Linked DNA regions of Homo sapiens. The protein of the gene in region 1 interacts with the protein of each later gene in a pairwise test. Each region holds a gene or a part of one and is shown in the gene's direction. Other genes may lie near its edges.

The links.
Region 2: the proteins of RSPH1 (region 1) and CORO1C interact in a two-hybrid assay, tested with the Homo sapiens proteins (one large-scale study listed by BioGRID and IntAct).
Region 3: the proteins of RSPH1 (region 1) and UAP1L1 interact in a two-hybrid assay, tested with the Homo sapiens proteins (one large-scale study listed by BioGRID and IntAct).
Region 4: the proteins of RSPH1 (region 1) and ZBTB44 interact in a two-hybrid assay, tested with the Homo sapiens proteins (one large-scale study listed by BioGRID and IntAct).
Region 5: the proteins of RSPH1 (region 1) and CMAS interact in a two-hybrid assay, tested with the Homo sapiens proteins (one large-scale study listed by BioGRID and IntAct).
Region 6: the proteins of RSPH1 (region 1) and EDIL3 interact in a two-hybrid assay, tested with the Homo sapiens proteins (one large-scale study listed by BioGRID and IntAct).
Region 7: the proteins of RSPH1 (region 1) and KDM6A interact in a two-hybrid assay, tested with the Homo sapiens proteins (one large-scale study listed by BioGRID and IntAct).

Annotation. Positions count from the first base shown.
Region 1 is NC_000021.9:42,472,225-42,475,724, reverse strand, and holds the end of RSPH1 (radial spoke head 1 homolog), read left to right. Parts: intron 1-2,854; coding exon 2,855-2,907; 3' UTR 2,908-3,239; downstream 3,240-3,500.
Region 2 is NC_000012.12:108,648,064-108,651,518, reverse strand, and holds part of CORO1C (coronin-1C), read left to right. Parts: intron 1-2,498; coding exon 2,499-2,556; intron 2,557-2,668; coding exon 2,669-2,914; intron 2,915-3,455. UniProt on the Homo sapiens protein: Plays a role in directed cell migration by regulating the activation and subcellular location of RAC1. Increases the presence of activated RAC1 at the leading edge of migrating cells.
Region 3 is NC_000009.12:137,082,778-137,085,038, forward strand, and holds the end of UAP1L1 (UDP-N-acetylhexosamine pyrophosphorylase-like protein 1), read left to right. Parts: 3' UTR 1-1,761; downstream 1,762-2,261.
Region 4 is NC_000011.10:130,227,918-130,231,417, reverse strand, and holds part of ZBTB44 (zinc finger and BTB domain-containing protein 44), read left to right. Parts: 3' UTR 1-3,500. UniProt on the Homo sapiens protein: May be involved in transcriptional regulation.
Region 5 is NC_000012.12:22,049,218-22,052,717, forward strand, and holds part of CMAS (N-acylneuraminate cytidylyltransferase), read left to right. Parts: intron 1-3,500. UniProt on the Homo sapiens protein: Catalyzes the activation of N-acetylneuraminic acid (NeuNAc) to cytidine 5'-monophosphate N-acetylneuraminic acid (CMP-NeuNAc), a substrate required for the addition of sialic acid.
Region 6 is NC_000005.10:83,944,381-83,947,880, reverse strand, and holds part of EDIL3 (EGF-like repeat and discoidin I-like domain-containing protein 3 isoform 1 precursor), read left to right. Parts: intron 1-3,500. UniProt on the Homo sapiens protein: Promotes adhesion of endothelial cells through interaction with the alpha-v/beta-3 integrin receptor. Inhibits formation of vascular-like structures. May be involved in regulation of vascular morphogenesis of remodeling in embryonic development.
Region 7 is NC_000023.11:44,876,188-44,879,687, forward strand, and holds part of KDM6A (lysine-specific demethylase 6A), read left to right. Parts: intron 1-3,500. UniProt on the Homo sapiens protein: Histone demethylase that specifically demethylates 'Lys-27' of histone H3, thereby playing a central role in histone code. Demethylates trimethylated and dimethylated but not monomethylated H3 'Lys-27'.

The DNA of each region.
Region 1 (3,500 bases):
GGCAGGCCCTCCTGCAAGCCTGGCTGCAGTGGGAGAGGCCTGGGTGTGCAGCGGTGCCCATGCGCGTTGTCACAGGAGGACCGACCCCAGGCTGGAGAGCCCTGTCAGACATGCAGAGCCTGGCTTTCTTCTGTTGCATGATTTTTTTTTTTTTTTTGAGATGGAGTCTTGCTATGTCACCCAGGCTGGAGTACAGTGGTGCGATCTTGGCTCACTGCAACCTCCACCTCACTGGTTCAAGCAATTCCCCTGCCTCAGCATCCCAAGTAGCTGGGATTACAGGTGCATGCCACCATGCCCGGCTAATTTTTTTGTATTTTTAGTAGAGGTGGGTTTCACCGTGTTGGACAGACTGGTCTCAAACTCCTGACCTCACACAGGAGGCCCGCCTCGGCCTCCCAAAGTGCTGGGATTTGCATGATTTTTAGCAGGGCTGACTAACAGGAGTATGGTTTCAGACTAGTGGTGTCGGGAACTAGCTCTTTTTCAATGGGTTTGGATGTAAGATTAATCTAGAAACTTCTGCCTCTGCCAGCTCATAGGGCAGGGATTTGACCTCAGTTCTGACTGACTGAAGCCTCAGGCTCCTGGAATCTTTAAAAATCTTTCCCCAAGTGCTTGTGGGCACTTGCAGAAAGTCTGGAGAGAGGACTCGCTTCCCTTAACGCACTTTTCACATCTGACTGAAAGAGGGTGTCGTGCTTGTGAGGGAAAGGGCCATCTGGGAACAGCCTGGGCACGGCGGCCTCAGGCACGGGGTCTGCAGTCCCATTCCACTTAGTTTGTCTCTGTTGTAAATTAAGAATATACTTCCCATTCCTTTGAAAATAATACCTGAAATAATGAAATCACATAAAGCAGTTTTCTCTTAGATGCTTGAAGCACACATAGACTTTCGTGATCGGTAATTCCCCTGAGCGCTGGCATAGACTTTCGTGATCGGTAATTCCCCTGAGCGCTGTAGCAATGCACCCAGTGACGCAGTGCTGAGGTGGGACGTGGGGTCAGGTGGAAACCTGGCTTTACAAGTGAGCATCGTCTCTGCTTCTCTGACTTGCACAGGGAGGGTGGATAGAGTGAGCCCTGGTAGGTAGGGAGTCCACAGGATTCTGTTAGGACTGAGTGGCTAGAGTATGCACAGTGTTACAGCAGCATCTAGCTGTGCCCACAGATGTCAGTCCTTAGTCACTGTGGAGCACAGCTGGAGGGGGAGACACTGGGTTTGATAGGCAGTGTGGGAGTGAGGGGCTGGGCTCTCGCCCTCTAGCACCTAATGGGAAGCTGGAATAAAGGAATCAGTGAGTTCCCTGCAGTGACAGGGACGTGTTACCATGTACCCAGGAGAGGTGATGACTCACCTGGGGCAGGACCAGGAAACTCCGGGTTAGCTGGGAGGGAGGTGGCAAGGAATGGGTGAAACCAGGAAGGAAATTCCAGGCAGAGAGCAGAGTCTGACAGCAGAAGAGTGTGGGGGTGGGGAGGTGGCCCCTTTCCCTTGGAACCAGATGGCCTTTGAACTTGATCCTGAGCCCAGTAGGCGGGACCTCTGGGAGCTGTGGGGATTGCCTGTATCAGGCTTGCTCTCTGAGCTTCTCTGGGGCAATGAGGATGGGTGCCCTGGAGCCAGGCAAGGCAGGAGGCCCCAGAAACTTGGTGGGGGAGATAACGGAGGGGATGGAGCAGGAGGAATCCTGAAAACCGGACTGGGAGAGATGGGGCCGAGTGGACGATGCCCAGTACCAGCGGGCGTCTGAGACTGTGGGTTCATGCACCAGCCTTGGACAGAGGGAACACCCCCTTAACTCAGTGGTTTTGGGGCTCCAGGGGACATTTGGCAATGTCTGGAGACTTGGGAGGCTGGTGAGGGAGGTGCTGCTGGCATCTTCCTGGGTGGAGGCCGGGGACGGTGCTGAATACCCTGCAGGGCACAGAACAGCCCCCAGCAAAGGGTCACCCAGGCCACAGTGTCAGGAGGGCCCTAAGTGAAAAGGGAGTAATACAAAATAGGCTTAGTCGGCAGAACATTTATCAAAATAATGCAAGTTCAGCATGTATTCATCATGAATCCCACATTACATTGGAGATTTACCCTGCTAATTTCTTCTTTAATATACCCAACAGTGAAAGTTATAGAGTTTAATTAATAATAAAAAATAGCTCTACCTTTCACAAAACATTTAAATATAGCGTCTTATAAGAATGTGGCAAATTTCTGCTTTTTTTTTTTTTTTTTTTAAGATGGAATCTTGCTCTGTTGCTCAGGCTGAAGTGCAATGGCGTGACCTCGGCTCACTGAAACCTCTGCCACGGGGTTCAAGCGATTCTCTTGCCTCAGCCTCCCAAGTAACTGGGTTGACAGGCATGTACCACCATGCCCAGCTAATTTTTGTATTTTTAGTTGAGACGGGGTTTCACCATGTTGGCCGGGCTGGTCTCGAACTCCTGACCTCAAGTGATCCGCCTGCCTTGGCCTCCCAAAGTGCTGGGATTACAGGCATGAGCCACTGCGCCCGGCCTGCTTTTCTTTTAAATTAATAGCCAAGCAATTACATGTTTTAGCCACAAAGCTGGCTGTTTTGGACAGGTGTGCAGGCATAAGAGAATTACTGATGTTACATGGATAGTCTTGTCTTAGCATTTACTTTGAGTACGTATTTTGCTTATTTTATGTCGGGTACCAAAAGAAAAAACTGTTGAAGTGCATATGAGATAAAATTTAACATTCAATTTTTGACTGATGAATGCTTAATAGTTACAATAATTTTTTTCGGCAAAAGATCTGTTAGTGAATAAAGGCTTTAAAAATAGAACAAAGTAAATATGAGATATACTCATGTTTCTCTTTTCTTTTCAGGAAACATTAATTCTGAAGAAGAAGAAACTAGACAGTCAGACCTCCAGGACTAAGATGAAGTGAGCCGAGAGGAGATCGTATCATAAGAATGCTTCTGTCGTTAGCCGGGTGCAGTGCTGTGTGTATCTAGTTCCAGCTACTTGAGAGGCTGAGGCAGGAGGATTGCTTGAGTCCAGAAAGTGGCAGTTGCAGTGAGTGGAGATCGCGCCACTGCTCTCCAGCCTGGGTGGCAGAGCGAGACCCTGTCTCAAAAAATAAACAAAAACAAAATGCTTCTGTCAGTTAACAATCTTTATTAGAGGGTTTTTAGTCTTTCTTTCTCAGCTGTATGTTAAGTTGATTGACAAATGCAAATAAACGTCTTTATTATCCTTTCTTTCTGAAATAGCCTCTGCTTCAAGTTCTGTAAACTGAAGGTTACCACGTGGTTTTGCCATGGTTTTTCAGTGGTGTCTTCTCCTTGGATAGAGAAAACTGTAAATCTGCGGGAGACGGTGAATGGAAGTTTGGCTTCTGGCTGAGCTGGGAGAGTAGTTCTGTACCCAAACCCCTCTCTCAGATTTCCCACAAGGGAGGTAGGAAGCACTTAGAACATGAGGATTGCTGTGTGCAATGCTCCTCGAATGCAGTGTGATGGGTACACGGC
Region 2 (3,455 bases), on another chromosome or scaffold:
AACCAAAGGTCCTATAATGGGGCGGTAGGTTAGCTTGATTTAGGAAGTTCAGCTATGATATAATTTCTACCTCTCTGTACTACTTCTGATTTTTAGAAAATTCATATTCTAAATGCTAGCAGGCTTCCTAAGGGACAGGCTTTTTTCTCATGCTAGTCAACAAATATATCCTCTGAGACTCAGTGACCACTGGCCATTTCAAACAACAGAATAATTAGCACTACATCATCACATATAAGGTCGTACCAAACATTTGTGTAACACTGTGTTTATGTGGACTTTTAAAACGCTTGCTGTTCTGGTCTCACAATTAAAGAATTGATACTTACGTCTTCCAAATAAAAGGAAGAGAATTTTTATAAGCCCCTTTTTTATATTAATCTCTACTAAAAATAAAAAATTTGCTATGTGTGGTCGTGGGTGCCTGTAATCCCAGCTAATTGGGAGGCAGAGTCAGGAGAATCACTTGAACCCAGGAGGCGGAGTGAGCCGAGATGGTGCCACTGCACTCCAGCCTGGGCAACACAGCGAGACTCCGTCTCAAACAAACAAAAACAAACAAACCAAAACTCTCTATGTGATTTTTTTTTTTTAGTTGGAATAATGAAGGAAAGCTGTTAAAGATAATTGAAAATTGTGGTTTAAACCAAACTAATCAAAATATGGTTCAAAATAGACTGAATTCAAATTTATGATTACATCCAATATTTTGAAACACATTTGTTGTCATCTAAAAGTTCGACAGACTATAAACACAGTTGTTCAGAATGTCTCCGATTTATGAAGTGTTTCTTGAGCATTTATTGTATGCCAGGACTGTGCTAAATATGCTACTTGCTACCTCTTTCTTTTCATAACAATCATATGTGGTAGGTGTAACTTTTATCCCCATTTTATGGATGAAGAACTTAAGGCTTGGTGAGGTTGTCACACTCTCGTGGGTTTTGGTAGTAGAGCTGGAAGTCAAAGCCAAGTCAGTCTTTTTATTGGCTATACTAACCACAGAATTTTCATTAAATCAGTCTTTAAAAATGTTTTTGGGCCAGGAGTGGTGGTTCACCCTGTAATCCCAACACTTTGGGAGGCCAAGGTGGGAGGATCACTTGAGCCTGGGAGTTCAAGAGCAGTATGGACAATCTAGTGAGACCCTGTCTCTACAAAACATTAAAAAAATTAGCCAGGTGTGGTAGTACGTACCTGTGGTCCCAGTTATTCCAGAGGCTGAGGATTTGGCTTGAGCCCAGGAGGTCAAGACCTCAATGAGCTTGTGCCACTGCACTCCAGCCTGGGCGATGGAGCAAGACCCAGTCCCAAAAAAAAAAAAAAAAAAAAAAAAAAGGTTTTTGGTTTATCTGGGACTCTTTTAGTTTTTGGTTGAAATAGTAAAGAGGCACATTTGACACAACCTTCCTTTTAAAGAGGATGATGATTTTATAAACCTTTACCACCCTGAGCTCTACTCAGCTTTTGTTCCCCTGATGCGTTAGAGCAGTGTATCTGCCAGGTTGTCTTCAATGGACTCCTGCCCAGTTTCAGATGCCAAAGGCTGCAGGTTTCCAGGAGAAATGGTTTTGCATATTTGATGTGGCTGTGTCTTCTCTGACTTAAACTCTTGGAATTCAGAAAACATTTCCCCAGCAGCATTGACGCCCACATTCAACTCCCCCCTTGCACACCAGCCGTTTGATCTGGTGATCTGGCCAGGATGCTCACTAAGGCTACCTCTCTTGCCAGGAGCTTTAGAGACTTTTTTTGTTGTTTCCCGTCTTGACTGAAAAAGAAAATTGGCTTGACCTTATCAGGGTCATCATAAGAGAAGTCATTTCTGGTCTGTTTAGTTCTCTTGTAGGATACAAATAAAAATGTTATACCTTTCTTCCCCATTACAGAGCTCTTTGCTCCCTTCTTCCAGTATTACAGTGCAAGTGGCTTTACATTCTCTTTCCACATTTTGGATAGTTTCACATTTTTCTTGAGTGTCATGTACGATGTGGTTTGCTAGGATGAGAAAATCATAATCCTAGGATTGTTTTCTTTTGCTTTCTAAAAGTCATATTTATACTTATATGTTCAACCACCTCAAGCTGGCAGAAGACCTTGTACCCGCGTTGTAGATACAATCTAACAGATGTGTGTTCTCTCCTGTAGGTTGACATGGTAATTTTTTCATAAGTGAGTCAGTTTCAGTGTTGCTATTATTTCCACCACAGTTGGTCTGTCCCCCAGATAATTGGCATTTGTCATCATCATACGTAGACCTCTACTCATGGTTCTTGTCTCCAGTCTGCCAGTTCCTAGCATAGTGACTCTCAGCTTCCGTTCTCTCATCTGTCAACCGGGAACACTAAATTCTGCCTATTCCCGGGGTGGATCAGATGTGGGGATGGGTAAAGAAGCACTTGACATTTCAGACAGCATTGTAGAAAACTAATTATTCATCCTGTTAGTCAGCCTCATATTTCACTTAATGCAACTTTGCCTTTATTTCCCCTCTGAAGATTCTTCAAACTTCATGAGAGAAAGTGTGAACCTATTATTATGACTGTTCCCAGGAAGGTGAGTGCTGAGTTTTCTAGACAATCCATATTTTAAACAAATGTAAAAATAAAATTCAAAAATCCCAGGCCTTTCTTCTTCCTTACCCACGGGTGCCAAATGTCTCTTGTAGTCTGACCTTTTCCAAGATGACCTGTATCCTGACACAGCGGGGCCAGAGGCCGCGCTGGAGGCAGAAGAGTGGTTCGAAGGCAAGAATGCAGACCCAATCCTCATCTCCTTGAAGCACGGGTACATTCCAGGCAAAAACAGGGATCTCAAGGTGGTCAAGAAGAACATTCTGGATAGCAAGCCCACTGCAAACAAGAAGTGCGACCTGATCAGCATCCCCAAGAAAACCACAGACACGGCCAGTGTGGTGAGGACCAGTGGAGTGCAGGGGTGCTTGGCTGGTTCAGGCTTTATCCTCTAGAAAGCCCTTGTGGTCCAGGGCGTCGGCGAGTACTGTCCCAGCTGGGTGCTCAGGGGTTTTCAGTAAATGAAAAAGTGGGAGAAGGTCCTCGGTCACGTGATGGTGGTGGTTTGTGGCAACACTTGCCTCCTTTAACGGAGTTAAAGCTCCTTTAGCCCCATTAAAGGAGCCAAGTGTGGCCACAGACCACCATGATTGGGATAGGTATCAGTTTCCTCCTATCTCTCAGTGTGAACAGGAGCCTCTTGGGTTTTTCCTGTCTTTTGCCAAACTAGTTAAACCCTTCTCTGATTTGGGTAGAAATAAAATATCATGGGAGTGTGGGGTCATAGGCACCAGGGAGAGGAGGTCCCTGGAAGGAGGGAGTGGCACGTGTTCAGATGTAGCTGAGTGGCTACGACAGAAGGATCTGGCGGTGTGGGGCTGGCAACAAGGGGGATTTAGGCAAGAGCCCTTTGGGTGGGGAATTGGGAATCAAGCCTGCCTT
Region 3 (2,261 bases), on another chromosome or scaffold:
TCCTGGAAGTCCCGACTCCCCCCAGACCTGCCAGCCCCGGCGTCCTGGAGCTGGGGGCTACAGCCCAGCCTGAGCTCTGGGTGGGAAAGCAGCCTGCCCCATGCTTCCAGCCTGCAGAACACAGAATGAAACATGCTGGTAGACTCCACGAGGGCAGGGCCTCTCCTGTCGCCTCTGGACACAAGTGGCGACAGCCTGCTGGGGGCTCTGTGGCTCCATTCCTGGCTGTGGGGTCTAGTCAAGAGGCAGAGGGACTTGGGACCTGGGAGAATGGGGCTGAGAGGAGGCTTCGGGTTGGGGCCCAAGGGAGGTGTGGTGTCATCTGGGGAGAACAGGAGGGCATGTCCCTTTGGGAGCCCGCCTTGTGGATCCACCACACCCCACCGAGCACTAGAAGCTGCATAAGCTACACAGGATGTGCTTCTGCAGCCTACAGATGCAGAACCAGAATGAGGGGGACAATTCCACCCACTCGAGGGCTGCCCCCTCTTCCTTAGCAGACGAACCAGTAATGGGGGCAAGGCTGGGGCATCCCAGCCCACACACCCTGGATGCCCAGCAAGGCCACAGAAAGAGCCTGATGTCCATGATCCAGGTGGCTCTGAGAAGCTTGGCCTGGACACCTGAGCCTGCGGCCGGTACTCCTGCCTTCTCCCCATCTATCCCCAAGGCCTCTGCCTCTCAGCCTCTTCCATGGTCGGTTTAGGCTGCTGAGTTTTCTGTGCTTCCCCAAGAACCAGTGGGATCAATGCCGGCGGCCTCTGTGATGGTTGCTGACTAATCCGGGATTTCATGAGTCAGAGGCACCACCCCTCACCCCAGCTGCCTGCTGCTTCTGACGGATCTTGGTGCTCAGGCTGCCTGGCTCTCCGAGTGAGGACGCAGCCTCCATATTTGGTGCACTCAGGCATGGCTGGGACAAGCCAGCTGCCCCAGGGTTCTTCCCCTGGTGATTCTCGCCTGCTTTCTCATCTCAGGGGAGGCAGTGGCACCTCCCTCTCCCTGCTGACATGAAGAGAGCTATGATATGCCACTGCTGCCAACTCATCCTCTGCCCCCACCTCGAAACCCACAGTCCCCAGTGGAGGGCCACTACTCATCCCCATTGGTTTCCCAGGGGAGGGGTGTTGTCTGGAAGGGCAGGTTCAGATGCAGCCTTCCAGATTTAGAGGCACTGGGAGGACAGTGGCTGAGTGGAGGCGCCCAGACCTGGGCAGGCAGCAGGCTCAGGCCCACACCTTGTGATTTTTGAAACCAAAGCCCAGAAGATGATGTTTACTTCTCTCTCCCTGGCTCTGCCCTTCTTACTGCAAACCATGCTGTGCCTTAGGGCCCTTCTCATAGCTGTTCCTCATGGCCATGACTGGAACAGGGATGCAACCTCTTTCTACACAAGCACAGTTAGTTGGGTGAAGTCTTTTTTTTTGTTTGTTTTAGACGGAGTTTCACTCTTGTTGCCCAGGCTGGAGTGAAGTGGCGTGACCTTGGCTCACTGCAACCTCCAGGCCAGCCTCAGCCTCCCTAGTAGCTGGGACTACAGGCACCCACTACCACGCCTGGCTAATTCTTTGTATTTTTAGTAGAGATGGGGTTTGACCGTGTTAGCCAGGATGGTCTCGATCTCCTGACCTCGTGATCCACCCACCTCGGCCTCCCAAAGTGCTGGGATTATAGGTGTGAGCCACCGCGCCGGGCCGGTTGCTGGCATCTTAATGTTCTGTAGGTGGAATATTTCCAATAAACACAAGGTGCCGTAATTGACTGCTACTCTGGCAAGTGCAGTTTTTGGGCAGTGCACGGGTGTTGGGAACAAGGATCAGGTGTTCACAGCTGTGTCCCAGGGCTGGAGCTCACTGGGGGCCCCCTTAGGGACAGGAGTTCACACATGAAGGCCAAGACTACTTGGGGTGCCAAGGAATCCCCCCGCGGTCCCATCCCACTCTTCACCAGGGTCTCAGGAGGGCCTGAGACAACCTGCGGTCAGGAACCTCGGGGCGCTCTCCAGGGCAGGCTTCTGCATGCTCAGCTCTGACAGCCTGGAGACTCGCTCTCCTGCACCTGCATCCTTGAGATGCCAAGGTTTCCCTGCTAACCACGTGAGGATGCTTGGGGTACTCCAGGGACTGACAAGAGTGAGTGGTGTCAACCTAAAGAGAAACTCAGGCTCTCCAGAATAAATGAATTTAATCAAGAATAACACATAATTGCAATGCAGAGTATGCAAGCCTCAGTGGGTCACAGGCATGTGGTGGGGGGGTGGG
Region 4 (3,500 bases), on another chromosome or scaffold:
TACTGTGAAAATGCATATCTGGTTAGTTGTCTGCTGCCCAGATCTTATCAATACCAGTAACTAACCAGTATTTAACATAAAATGATACAAATAAAGGCCTTTTTCTATTTCAGTGAGGGTACATTTTTCTTGATATATATGTACTTTAAGGATATTGGATCTGTTTATGGATCTGTTTTAGGAAACAGATTTGCAAGGGATAATTGTATATATAGTAGTATTTAGGTTTATTTCAAATTCATCTTAGGGATGCCTAGATGCATAATTTTTACCAGGACATATTGAAAATATTGCAAAGAGATAGCCAGTTATATTATCCCATTCATTAGAAATTACCAGTGTAACTAAACATAAATATTCCAGTTTAGAGTGCTTAAACGTAGCTATCTTTCTTAAGGCCAGGAGGGTAACTTTGTGGTATCTAAAGGGCTTAAATTTCAGAATGCAGAATAAATTGCCTTTTTAAAACCAAGCATTTTGTACAAGCTTTTATTTTCAGTTTTTTAACTACCAAATAGGTGTGATGTACTTTAGAAGTAAACAAAGATGTTCACCCATGATAATGGATGTTAAAGCTCCTGCAGTTGTTCTTTTCGTGTTTAAAGGGTATATTCTAATAGTGGAAGCATCAAACATGTCAGTGATTTCATCTCATTCAGAAATAAAGAGATTAATATTGGTCTTTATTTTTTGGCATTTTAAGTTTTATATAAATGGATGCAGATGGAGATTATCACCCACAAATATATTTAAATGGATTTTTCTTAATTTGAATTTCAAGTAATCTTTTTATTTCAAGTAATTAGTTACGCATTTAGTTACATTGCCAGTTTTTTTTTTTTATCAATTTCAGTAAGACAAAATATACTAAAATGTTTAAATAGCCTCATTCAATCTTACATTTTGACATTTCAGCAATCATTCTGGCTTACAGTAATTAGATCCCCTGTTACGACACATGCCCTTTGTTCTTAATAACTAGCAAAAAAAAAAAAAAAAAAAAACTTTCATCTTGTTAAAATACTTTGCCAAATGAAATAGACTAGTCAATACATCTGATGTCCATAATTATTGGTAACTCAGTTACCTTCTAACTAATAGGCTGGTTCAGGAGACTCTCCCAGTTTATAAATGGTTCTCTTGGGAGCCTTTGGAAGCTGTATTAAATCTTTCAGTCTTTTATTTCTAATTTTTTCTCTTAATCTAAATAGAGGCCAGTTATCTATTTTATCAGCTTTTATTCTTGAAGATTCTCAGATTATGTTTTAGTCCCTTTTAGCTTTAATAGTCCTTGAAAAATACATTACTGTATAATGTGGCAATTCTGTAACAGAGACTTATTACTTGAATGAATAATCCTAAAATTTTAATATTTTAGCTGAAGTTTGAGATTTGTGGAATGAACAAAAGAATTAGAAACTTTCATATGTTACTTTGTTTCAGTCATCTGCAAAGTATGAAGCTGTAATTCTGAAATACACATCCAAGTGAATGAGAATTAAAAATTTTCTAAATATTAATACTAACTGGGAAAAAAAAACTAGTGTGAAGTTTACAGTTAGAAGAAACAGACCCAAAGTTGCCAGAAGGTAATAAATAAATGTAGTTTTCACTGTAAGTAAGTTATTGACGTAAGATGCTTTATTTGTAATATATTTAGATTTTGAAAGTTATTGAGAGATGAATGTATAAAAGCTAAATTTTCTTTTCTGAAGCAGTGAAACAAAATTGGGGTAACAAGGAAGCTCTGTTGTGGCAAACATGTCTATGAGGAATATTAAAACTAAGCATACTCCCACAGGCTTTAAACTCAAACTATGAACATTTAAATTAAGTTGTTCCTTATTTTGCCTATACCCATTTTTATCTTTCATTGTCGTTTTTGCTTGACAGTATGGTGACAGAGTATTTTTATTTGGAAAGTCCTCAGCAAGATGAATTAGCCAAAAGCAATAATGGTTCAGATTAAACAATAAAGTGGAATTGATTCAATCCCAGGCTCAACTAAGAACAGTCGCTCTCTGGATGTTTCATTTTAGACGATAGATAAGTTGAGATGTTGTAATATTTATGGGGGGTTAAGCCTGTGTCAGTTATGGGATGAAGACTTGTAGTACCAGTACCATCAGTGGTCATACTTTTTTTTAACTTTTTACTAAACTAATACAGTTAGACATTTCCACTCTATCGTGATTATATTTTTATGATGGGAAAATAAAAACACTTCCATGTTTTTATAAATAGTCTCTGCAAAGATTTCAGATGTTATTGGTATCTCGGTTTGGCAGTATCTGAAAAATTGAGATTGTCTTTGAAATGTTTGTGCTACTTTTACTTAAGTAAACCCCCACTGTGCAAGACCCAGGCCGGCTTCAGCTAATACCAAGGTTTCTGTGTGCATAATAGTTTACAGAGAACTTAAGAGTAAGGACTGCGGATTAAAAACAAAACTTTTTTTAACTTTAAAATTTTTAGTTTTTGTTCAAAGTACCTGGTTTATAAAGTCAAATTCTTTTATTAGTTCCTTTCTCGTTTAAATTGACTGATGTTGCTGATGAAGCTTAAAGTCCCAGGCACGGTTGTGGCGATATACTGATAAAATTGGTGCCTAGTGGTGGGAGGAGCTCCAGTGTCAGGACTTTTATTAAAAGGCCCTTGTTTTCCCAAATGCCAATCTAGCCACATTTAGATTTCATTATTCAATAAAACAGATGAAAAATCATCCCATAAATGAATGTTGAGGTTACCAAAGTACATCACCTGCTGAGGAAGGATAAATCTTCCTGCTTTAAGGGAGCCCTGTCATCTCTCCTCTTAATGCACGTTTCCCTTGGTATTAGTGGAAGCTGTGTTCAAGATGGGAAGCCTTTCCTGCAGTTCTTAGAAACACCTGCTTTCTAAGGAGAGCCTTTTCTAGGATTAGCTTATGTGTGTTTTCTCTAGGCGATTTTTTATTTCAGTTACCAATTTAATTTTCAAGTTGACAGATGCTGTGTAAAGTCTCTCATAATGAGAGTAGTCCATTAAATTGTTGAAAGTTGCACTGCTTTTCATCTTTCAGGTACCTGAAATGAGTGACATCAGGTATTTGGAAGGAGTAAGATCATAAACTGTATTCATTTTCTTCCTTGTACAAAGTGATGACTTCTAATGCTTATATCTCAAGGTATTTTTTAAAAAAGCAACGGTCCCTAATAGAGTAAAATTTGGTTTTGGTCCAAGTTCCCAATAATGTATTTAATGTTTCTGTTGTTTACTGGTGCCTCCCGTTGCATCAGGTAGAGATTGCCTGCCTCTTTGTAGGGCAGCCTTGTGGCACCTTATGTCCAACTTGGAGGATAGTATATGGCTTCTTTGTGCCTCTACTATCTTTTCAAAAGCCATTTTATAAAAATCCTAGGTAGCCTATTTTAATATTTAAATATATATATTTGTGAAAGAACTTTTAGAACAGACCTTTTCTTTTTACTTTAAAATTCCTGTATTTCCATTTTTAAGAG
Region 5 (3,500 bases), on another chromosome or scaffold:
ACAGTATAGCTTCATCTTCCACTCTTGAAACCAGCGATGGAGCCCCCGCTGAAAAACATGACAGGTTCATCAAGAGGAAAATTGGAGTACAATTACCAAAAGTGAGGGGGAATAGATTCTGTTGGTCAGAACCCAACAACCAACCATTACAGCAGGCATTGGGGATTTTGCTATGAAATGATTGGAAAATATGTATATATATTGACCAATGATTTTCCCATTTCCACATTTTAGCATTTGTACAAAACTTCTTTTAAAAAAAGACTCTAGTATCAACCTTTTCTGTACCAAGTAGTTTTATTTAATACTTCTAGACTAGAGTGTAAACTCATTGACCACAGGGATAATGTTTTATACTTCTTCAAGCCACCTGTGGTATCTGTCACTATATCAATGGTGGCGATTAGAAGAAATAAAATTGGCTGGGCTCACACTTGTAATCCCAGCACTTTAGGAGGCCGAAGGCAGGCGGAGGCCAGGAGTTGAAGACCAGCCTGGCCAACATGGCGAAACCCCATCTCTACCAAAAATACAAAAATTAGCCAGTTGTGGTGGTGCATGCCTGTAATCCCAGCTACTCAGGAGGCTGAGGCAGGGGAATCACCTGAACCCGGGAGGTGGAGGTTGCAGTGAGCCGAGACTGGACCACTGCACTCTAGCCTGGGCAACAGAGCAAGACTCTGTCTCAAAAAAAAAAAAAAAATTTTTTTTCTAAACTAGCAAAATGAATGTATTTCTAACTTAACAGTATCATGTAACAATGTGAATTTACTCTGTTCAAGTTTTGTGGCTATGTGCTATTTGTCATCCTTTCCAGGCATCTGGAGAGATTAGGTCAAAAGGTAATAGAAGGGACCAGCACTTCTTCCTCCATGAAGCCTTTACTGATCCCCTCAGTGAAAAGTAATTGTGCCTTTGTTTTCCCATACATAGCTACGTCGTTTGTACCTTCATTTAGTGCATGCCCTATGCAGGGAGATAAGATCACAGACTCTGAAATCAAACTGTGGATTTGAATTCCAGCATCACCATGTGTTAACTGTGCAAACTTGGGTAAATCGCTTAACCTCTCTGTGCCTCAGTCTCTTCATCTACAAAATGTACTGAAGTGTGTGCCTCACAGGCTTGTGGAGGGAATTAAGTGAGATAATGTACGTGCAGCCCTTAGAATAGTGCCTGGCACATAGTATGTAATCTGTTATTGACATTTTCCTCTTGTTTAGAAGGTTTTTACTATCTTCCATGCTTGTAAAATGGGAAACTCTCCCATTGCTTGTAAAACGGGAAAGTTGTAATGATCTTTAAAATTATTTCTGGTGCTAACATTCTTTGACTTTGAAGAGTTAGTGGAAAGATGTCTTTATTCTCTTTTTCAGTTTCAGTGGCCAGCAGACTTTTTCTGTAAAGGGCCAGATAGTAAATATTTTAGGTTTTGTAAGCCAGATCGTCTTTGTTGCAATCACTCAGCTCTACTGTTGTGTATGTTGTGAAGGTGGCCATGACAATACATAAATGAAAGAGTGTGGCTGTATTCCAATAAAATGTTACAGAAACAGGCTGAGGAGTGGGCAGAATTTGGCCTGGGGAGACTCCTGCCATACTAGGTGAAAAGCTAAGCTTCTTATGAGCAAGTACCCTCTTATTCATCATGGTATGCTTTATATACTAGATCATTAAAATGTGTTGACTTATATTCAATTGACTTACTATGAAGCTGTAAGAGGACTTTGGAGCACCCTTCCTGCCTCCTACCCTCTCTTTTGTTTCTTCAAAAAATGTTTACCTTAGGAGAGAGCTGAAGAAAATTGCAGCTGTCTGATTTGTGTTTTTCAGGGCTCGAAGATACCTTTGAGATTATTTTGTTCAAAACCACGATTTGACTTAATTGAGGCAGATTTCTCTGGCCTGCTCAGAATCAAAGCTAACAGTACTTTTCAAGGTTGCTAACTTTGCATACTAACTAGGCTAGTTAGTAGTTAAGAAAAATGCTGAGATAATTTTTTTTCCTTTAGTACAAAGTTATTGCCAGAGTTGATTTTGTAAGAGCTTAATTTTCAACAGTGGTTCAGTGCTGTGTAAGTAAACCTCAGAACAAATTGATTTGTAAGTGTTGCCTAACATACTTGGGAAAAGTAAACATGTTTTAGTTTTATGCTTAGGGTATAGACTTTTGATTAATGAAAGGCCTATGCTGTTATTATCCCTAAAATGGCAGCTTCTGATTTAAAATAGTTATCACAGGCACCATGGTTGATATTCCTGTTGGTCCTGTTAGATGTGGTGTGACTTCATTTGAGGCTAAAGCCATTGGCATTAGACTTTGACATTCACTCTGCTTGACTGGCCTGTTTGTTCACTTGCTCATTTTCTCTTTTGCATAGCCCCATCTTATGTCCCTAAACCAAAGGAAAATTATCTACTCAGTCTCTTTCATAGGTTATGATCATAGTATTTTAAGTGTACATATGGGATACTGTTTTCATATTTTTTTCACAGTGTAATTGCTTAACATAACATACAAATTAGACATTTGGACCTTTGAAGGTCTGGAAGCAGAACTTCAGTCTACCTTCTGAAGATTGAGTGTGAGGATTAAATGAGACAGAGTAGATGTTACTTTATTACCATTCCTATTTTGGTATTTTGAATAGCTAACATTAAATGTTTATTCTGTAGTAAATGGTTTATATTTAATCCTCTAAACCATATGAGGTACCCACTATTATTACTTACCTCCATTTTACTGAAAATTGAGGCATAGGGAGATATGGATTTTTCCCATGGTCATATAGCTAGCATGTGGTGGAGCCAGAATTGAACCTCTTCCTTCAGAAACCATCCTTTTAATCCCTTACTGTTTCATTCATTCAACAGATCTATATTGAGCACCTGATATGTAGCAGGCACTGTGAAAGTACTTTGTAAAAAGTAAAGCACTGAAAAGAGCGTAGTTACTTAATTGATCCCTCGCTTCTCTTTTCCTAATGGTTTAAAGAGAATTACACCGCTATATTGGCCTCAGTCTCCATCAGTAGGCCAAGACTTTCTCAAGAAAATAAACTATGCTCTATATGTTATTACATCCCTAGTGTCCAGAATCGTGCCTGGGACAGAATAAGCACTTAGTAAATGGTTCATAAATTAAGGATGAATGAACGAAAGAAGGAAGGAAGGAAGAAAAGCAAACCTCCTCCAAAATTCTGTTTTTTTTCTTGCTTTTTAAACATTACTTAAAGACCACTGAACCCTCTGGTATTGAATTTTCATTGCAGTAAAAATCAGGATAATGAAGTAAATGGCTTCAGCAATTTATTTCAATTAATGTAAATTAGATGCCAAATTACCATGTCTTTTGCCTTCCCTGTTTATTTTTTATTGTATTCTAATTTCATCTTATCCTCTCGTCATCTCTATTTTAAAAATGCACTAGGTTTTCATTGCTACTTTACTTTGTTATATACCTTTGACTATGACATTTCCCAAGAGAACATTTTTTTCCC
Region 6 (3,500 bases), on another chromosome or scaffold:
GTTTAGCCTAGAGCGCTGAAGTTGAGTTTTTGAGAGGTTTGTGTCAATTATTGTTAAGTATGTCAAAAGTTCTTTTGATGAGCTAAGTTTGTTCTATATTCATTGAGAATTAAGCACTAGATTCAATAGACTGAAGTGAGAGATACACATTTTAGTCTTCTAAAAAGATAGACTTTCAAACTGTCTAAATACATACCTGTCCTATTGTATTGAGGCATGCCATGAATAGGCTGAAAGTTCCATGTTAGAAATATTAGAGGGAAAAGTTATTGATAGCAGATCTCTGAGTTCTCTTCCAGATCTCAGATTCTTTCATTATATGGGTAGAATTAGATAAAAACAGGGTTTCTGAGGATCAGAGCTACCAAAGACTGTTCTTATTTAACTTCTCCATTAGTGCTCTGGATGAAAGCTCAAAGGATTGAAATTATGTATGTTAAATAAAGAATTCTGAGCTTTCAGCCCAGCACCTCTGCACACACACACACACACACACACACACACACACACAGACACAGACACAGACACATACATGCTGCCCTAGGAAAATGGATCTTTACCTTTGTCCTCTATCCCTTAAGAACAGCAGGTCAGTGTACAGATACAGTCAGTAAGGCCAGTGGTATGCTTGATACCATAAACAAAGCAAATACAATCAATAGAAAAAACTTTAGAAAGTCTCACTCAACCTTTATATTTCCACAATATCTGAAATCCCAGATGCGGTTCGACTATAGTCTCCAAATAGCAGAAGAAAAATAATGAAATCTATAAGGGGGCAACAAAAACCCAGAGGGATGAAGTGATGGTCACTTGAAATCTTAATAAAATACTGGTGTTTAATACTGATGTAAAATGCTGATGTTTAGCCATAGGGAATCTATCTAAAAATGCTTAGAACCACTCGCTATTTGAATGATGTGAACAGCAATTCCAAAAAGTTAGAACAATGGTAATCTCTTTAAAACTTTTAATCAGTTAAGTTTAGGACAAATGAAAAGAAGCACATTTTTACAAACTAGATAATTTTCTAAAGAAATCATATGTGCAAGAAGTCCCCAAGGGATTCTTTGATATTTAGAGTCCTATTCGATGACTGCTAAAAGAAACTGAAATATGCCCCACCTCTCTGACTACATCGTGGAGGATAATGTTACTTTGTTCCATGATCCCTGGAGGCCTCCTATTGATGTCTATACCGGCCTGAATAGACCGTAGTCCTAACAAAGAATGGTAGCTCGTCTTATAAAAAATGTATTAATGCTGCTAGAAACAAGATTTTATTGTTTTATTTTATCTGATATTCTCTCCGTGCTGAGATTTGAATCCTCTGAAGAATCTGATTTGTATTTTCAACCAGCATCACAAGAGAGTTAACCTTAGGAAAAAGAAAATCAAGATAGCTACATTGAGGGAGTTGTATTTTTCTTTCTCTTATCTTCTCTTAGGTTGTAATTATGGAAGCTTCTGCAAAGTACCTTGAGTGTTTTTTGATCAAGGCCCCATATGTTAGAAAAAGCCTGAGAGACCTCTAAGCAATATCATGTTTGAATATATCAGCAAATTTGTGATCAGCCAATTAGCCTCCTTCCTGAACTGGAACTTGTGCATAGTTTTTCTAAAAAATTCTAAATTGAACTGTGTCTTTCTCATGTAAAATATTTTCACTCCTATATAGAGATTTAATGTTCTCTATCAGTCTTTTCAGACTTCAGTTTTAGTTCAGATGCTTATGTCTCTAAAATGTGCCTGTGAAAGCACTTTCTAGAAATCTTAGAGATTTTATGAAGTTAACTAAAAATACTGTGTTTGCATTCCTTTGCAAGGTGAAATATTTAGGTGGCATTCTTAAGCAGGGGCTTCCTAGTGCTTGAGATAAGAAAACAGCACATGTGCCACATGTTTACACAACAAGTACAAAATATCATCCTGGAATTAGCAAGTGGGTGCTTTGTGTTCTGTACGTGTCATTACTGAGAGGCCTCTGAAAATAAAAATATATTTTCAGTACTTTGAGGCTGTAAATTCTGTGATTCTAGTATAGATTTCGGCTGTTTTTCTGTGAACGTTATTGTTTTATTAATCATCCTGTTTCGTGAAACTTCACTTTTTTTAAGTGAACATGCAAATATCCATGACTTTCACATATTAAATCAGAAATTTCATAGTTGTTTTCAGTTCCAGAGCTGATATAGTTTCTCTGTATGTATTCTTCATTATAAAGAAATAAGTATAATTAATAATTCAACTAATACTTTCTGGGTTGATAGTTCGCATCAAAACCTGTGCTGGAGAGCAGACACTTAAGAGAAAATTGTTTCTTTCTGTATTTCCTTCCCAAGAAGTGGTATAAAACTATATTTCGGGCTGTTATAAATCTTGCAATGAAAGTTAATGAATTTAAACTCTATTATCCCAGAGATATACATTAAGTTCACTAGCAGGGCTACAAAATTGGATTTTAGATTCCGTATTAAATTGTAATACCACAATCTCAGTGAAATATTTGAATCCAACATCATATGTCAGAGAGGATGTCAGTAAACCAGGGCTTATTTTCTGCTGTTGCAGTAGCAACAGTCTCTCAAGATTTTTGGTGAGTGTTTATGATATGTCCTGTACCTGTGAGTTTTGCTAACAGAGACATTGTAACATAGTAGTAGCACATTTCAGTCCAGAATGAATTATTCCTTTGTGCAAGACAGGGCATTACTAAGCATAAAATGCCTGCTAAATGAATATGAATTTAGATATGCCAGCAGAACCAGCAGAGAGACTTTTCAGTCTTGTCTATTGCTCCTATTAATCAGTGCCGTACTGCCTAATGCTTTTGAGGAGAATATGATTTTTTTCTTTCCAGGAGAACATTTGTGGCCGTATAAGACTGAACCAATCTAGCCTAGAAGGCTTTTAAAACATTCCCTTTAATTTCAGAATGCTGAAAGATGTGGGTTAAGTATCCTGTCATGTGATGATGGAGTTTGGTTGTTTTTTGTTTTCTACTTTAAGGATTTTATCTTCAGGTGTCTCTGGCCACATAGTTATGTTTTGATGCCAAACAAGAAAGAAATTTGATGTCAAACAAGAAAGAAAATTATCTTCTAATTATAAGATGCTTCATAAAGCAAAAACAGAAAGCGTTGAAGAGATTTTTACTCTAAAAATTTAAACTAAATCTAAAAATCTAAACTAAATCTAAATTTTTAAAAATGTAGATATAAAATAGTTAGAAATCACTTTAATAAGAAATGTTCAGAATCTATAAGAAAAAAAGGATAAAATCTTCAGATAAAGACTAAATAATATAAATACCTCAGTTTACCCCAACATAATTTATAATTTAATGCCATTCCTATCAGGGACCCAGTGTTTTAAATTTGTTTTGTTTTCTGAAGCAGACATTTGTCCAAGTTATTATGAAAGTCTTTTGGGGAAGAGCAAGTGGCCATAGTAATAGTAAAGCTCCAAAAAAAAAAAAAAAAAAGCATTTTTACAAAAGA
Region 7 (3,500 bases), on another chromosome or scaffold:
GCCTTAACATTAAAATAAAACCTTCTGTAATATGTGCTTGCAACCGCATATAGTTCTTGGTTGCATCTTTGTGAGCCTGAACATACCAGTGGGGTGTGTAATGTAAAGCCTGACATTATATAACTTCGCACCCTCTGTTTGAATTGGGTTCTGAATGAAGTGAATGAGCTGGAGTCCTGCTGTAGGAAGTCTTGAATTATTTAGTTTCATCCTTCTTTTAACAGTCCTCGAAGCAGTATTTTTTTGTTTTTTATTTTTATTTTTTGTGGAATGTTGAGCTATGTTGGTTTCAGAATTCTTATTCCCTGAAAGTCTTAAGAGTTGGCTTTCCTTTACTGGGCAGGTTTAGGCTACTTACCTGAGGGCAGATAATGGAATTGAATAACTCCCAGAATTCCCTTTTTAGCTTTGATTTTTGTCCTGCCATGCCCCCCCACCCCCAACCCCCCGGCCCCAATTTAGTCTGCACTTTGTATAACGTTTTCCTTTCTGGCAGAAATTTAGCTATTACTACTTGTTTTCAAAAATTCTTATTCCTATGTATATTATTGGATTTTCTTTCAAGTTTTTAAAATTCACATTTGTATGTTAAAAAAAACTCTTGACCTAAAAGCTTTAGAAAGTTGAAAGCATTAAATATGTCTCTTACTTGTCCCTTAACATATGTACGTATACATATATACACACGTGTACATATACATATATACACACGTATACATATACGTATACACACATATACATATACGCATATACACACGTATACGTATATACGCACGTATATGAATACGTATATACACGTATACGCATACGTATATACACACGTATACGTGTATACATATATACATGTATATACATACGTATGTATATGCGTATACACATATATGTATATATATGCATATGCGTATGTATACGTATGTACATATCTATATGTGTATTCCTTTTCCAGGTGTGCAGTTTATTCAAACCACTGATTTCTCATCGTCTCCCGAATGTTTTTGTCAGATTCAGTTATATTAGAGTCATTGAAAGAATTTTTTGTTTGTAGGATGGCCATTTGATATACAATGCCTGGGGTTTTGGATTAAAAAAATAAGGTAGTTAATACAATGTATTATTTTTTGGTAATGTCTTTAAGGTTGTAAACAGCTAGAGCCTGCGTAATTAGAGTTCTTGTGATATAGGGTGATCTTGAACAGTGCTCTTGAATGCTGACCCTTAATCTTCTGGTAATGTAATAATTCAAGATTCTTATTTTTAAAATTTCAGTGGAGTTATCGAAAACTAAGCAAAATATTTTAACAGAAATTAACTTGTGACTTTTTTAGTACATTTTTGAAAACCTTTTGGGTTTTTTTTTTTTTAAGTAGGGTAAGGATTTGAGTTAAAGTAGAATATATACGAATATATACCATAAATGTAGTAAGTTTAAATATAGTAGTACTACCAAGTATAGTTATAGTAATAATGCTAGGGGACTGGGGAATCTTATCTGCGTCAGGGAACTATTGCTAAAATACACAGTTTTGAACAAAGTATCTTATTTTTAAGTTTTTCTTAAATACTCTTATTGGAAATTTTTTTGGTAATTCTATTAGTAGAAAGATTATACAAAATACTTAGAAGTTATAGATTGTATATCACTTAAAAATGTATGTGCTTTTTTCCGTAGGACATATTAGCATTAAAACAGTTGGTGTTTTAAATTTTTTTGATAATAGAAGTAGTTTAAGATCCATTGAAACATATTTTCTTAAATTTGGTTTGCTGGCGTGTTTGGTAGGGGAAATTATTAGGTCAGTTCTAGAGGTGGCTTTTTTAAATTGTAATATTTGGATGTTGATTAAAAACATTCTCATTTATGTGTGTTTTTTGTTTGCTGGCACTTAAAGGCATACAGGTTGAGTATCCTTTATCCAAAATGCTTGGAACCAGATGTGTTTTGGATTTGGGATTTTTTTGGGTTTCAGAATATTTGCAGAATACATACCAGTTGAGCATCCCTAATCTGAAAATCTGAATTCCAAAATGCTCCAATGAGCATTTCCTTTGAGTGTCATGTTGGTACCCAAAAAGTTTTAGATTTTGGATTTTCAGATTAGGGATGCTCAACCTGTAAATTCATTTCCAGTGCTAAAGATGGCTAGTGTTTTGGTTAGAAAAGTCATGAGAGCCTGTCTCAAAAAACAAAAACAAACAAAAAAAGAAAGTAGCCATGGAAATAATGTCATGCTTTGTGTTTTAAAGAGTTTTCTAGTTTGGAAGATTGTCTTCTGAACACTTGCAGTCTTAATTTTTTACGTGGACAAAGTCTTATATACTTGGTATTTCCTAAAGTTTTGATTTGTGCCTGGTAATAAAGATATACTAAGATTATAGAACATATTTGCATATTTGGTCACAAATTAGAACTGCAGCAATACATAAACAGGCACTTTTAAAGTTCTGGTTTTCTTTTTCAGTAAATAGTTCTTTCTGTCGAATCAATTACAAATTGAAATAACTAGAGAGCATTTGACTGCCACCTCTAGATACTTTTTGTTTTTTTTTTTAATTTGAGACAGTCTCACACTATCCCCCAGGCTGGAGTGCAGTAGAGTGATCTCGGCTCACTGCAACCTCGGTCTTCCAGGTTCAAGTGATTCTTATGCCTCAGCCTCTTGCGTAGCTGGGATTACAGGTGCCTGCCACCACACCCGGCTAATTTTTGTGTTTTTATTAGAGGTGGGGTTTCACCGTGTTGGCCAGACTGGTCTCAAACTCCTGACCTCACGTGATCAGCCCACCATGGCCTCCTAAAGTGCTGGCTTTGCAGGTGTGAGCCGCCGCACCTGGCCAATATCTTAAGCTGTTAAGAAAAACTGCCTGAGAGATGAATTTTTGTGACTTAGGTGAAGTGATAGGTCATGCACTTTAAACCAAAATGAAAGTTCATTGCTTGGCTAGCTGCAGAGTAAGTCTTTTTCTGACTTAAATTATGTAACATTTAGTTTTTGTTTACATAGTACCAATATTCTGCATCTTTGAAAGGATTTCTGTTAAGTTTATTTTTACTTTGAAATTCATTGTGATGCGTTGAACTCTTTGAAATTGATGTTAATGACTGCTAACACTGCATTATTAATAATATTTTTGAAATGTGTTATCTAGAGAGCTAATTTATGTTAAGAAAACACTACCAGCTTGTCTAAGAATTGAAATGGTGGTTAGGCTGTTTAGGACTCACATGTATTATTTGTAGATTAGTTAATTAATAAAGTTTATTTAATGAATGCATAATTGACAGTCTTAAGTACTCATATTGAAACTTCACATATAATTTTATCAGTTTTCCACATTGGTTTGTAAATTATCGTGACAGTAAATTAAAACAGTATATTAATGTACACTATGTGCAAGCCTTCTATGTAGATAGTATGAAGATAGCATAGATATTTCTTGCCCGTGTTGAACTTAAATTCTTTAAGAGGGGTGAGATAAGTTTAAGGGTGACTAACACAGGA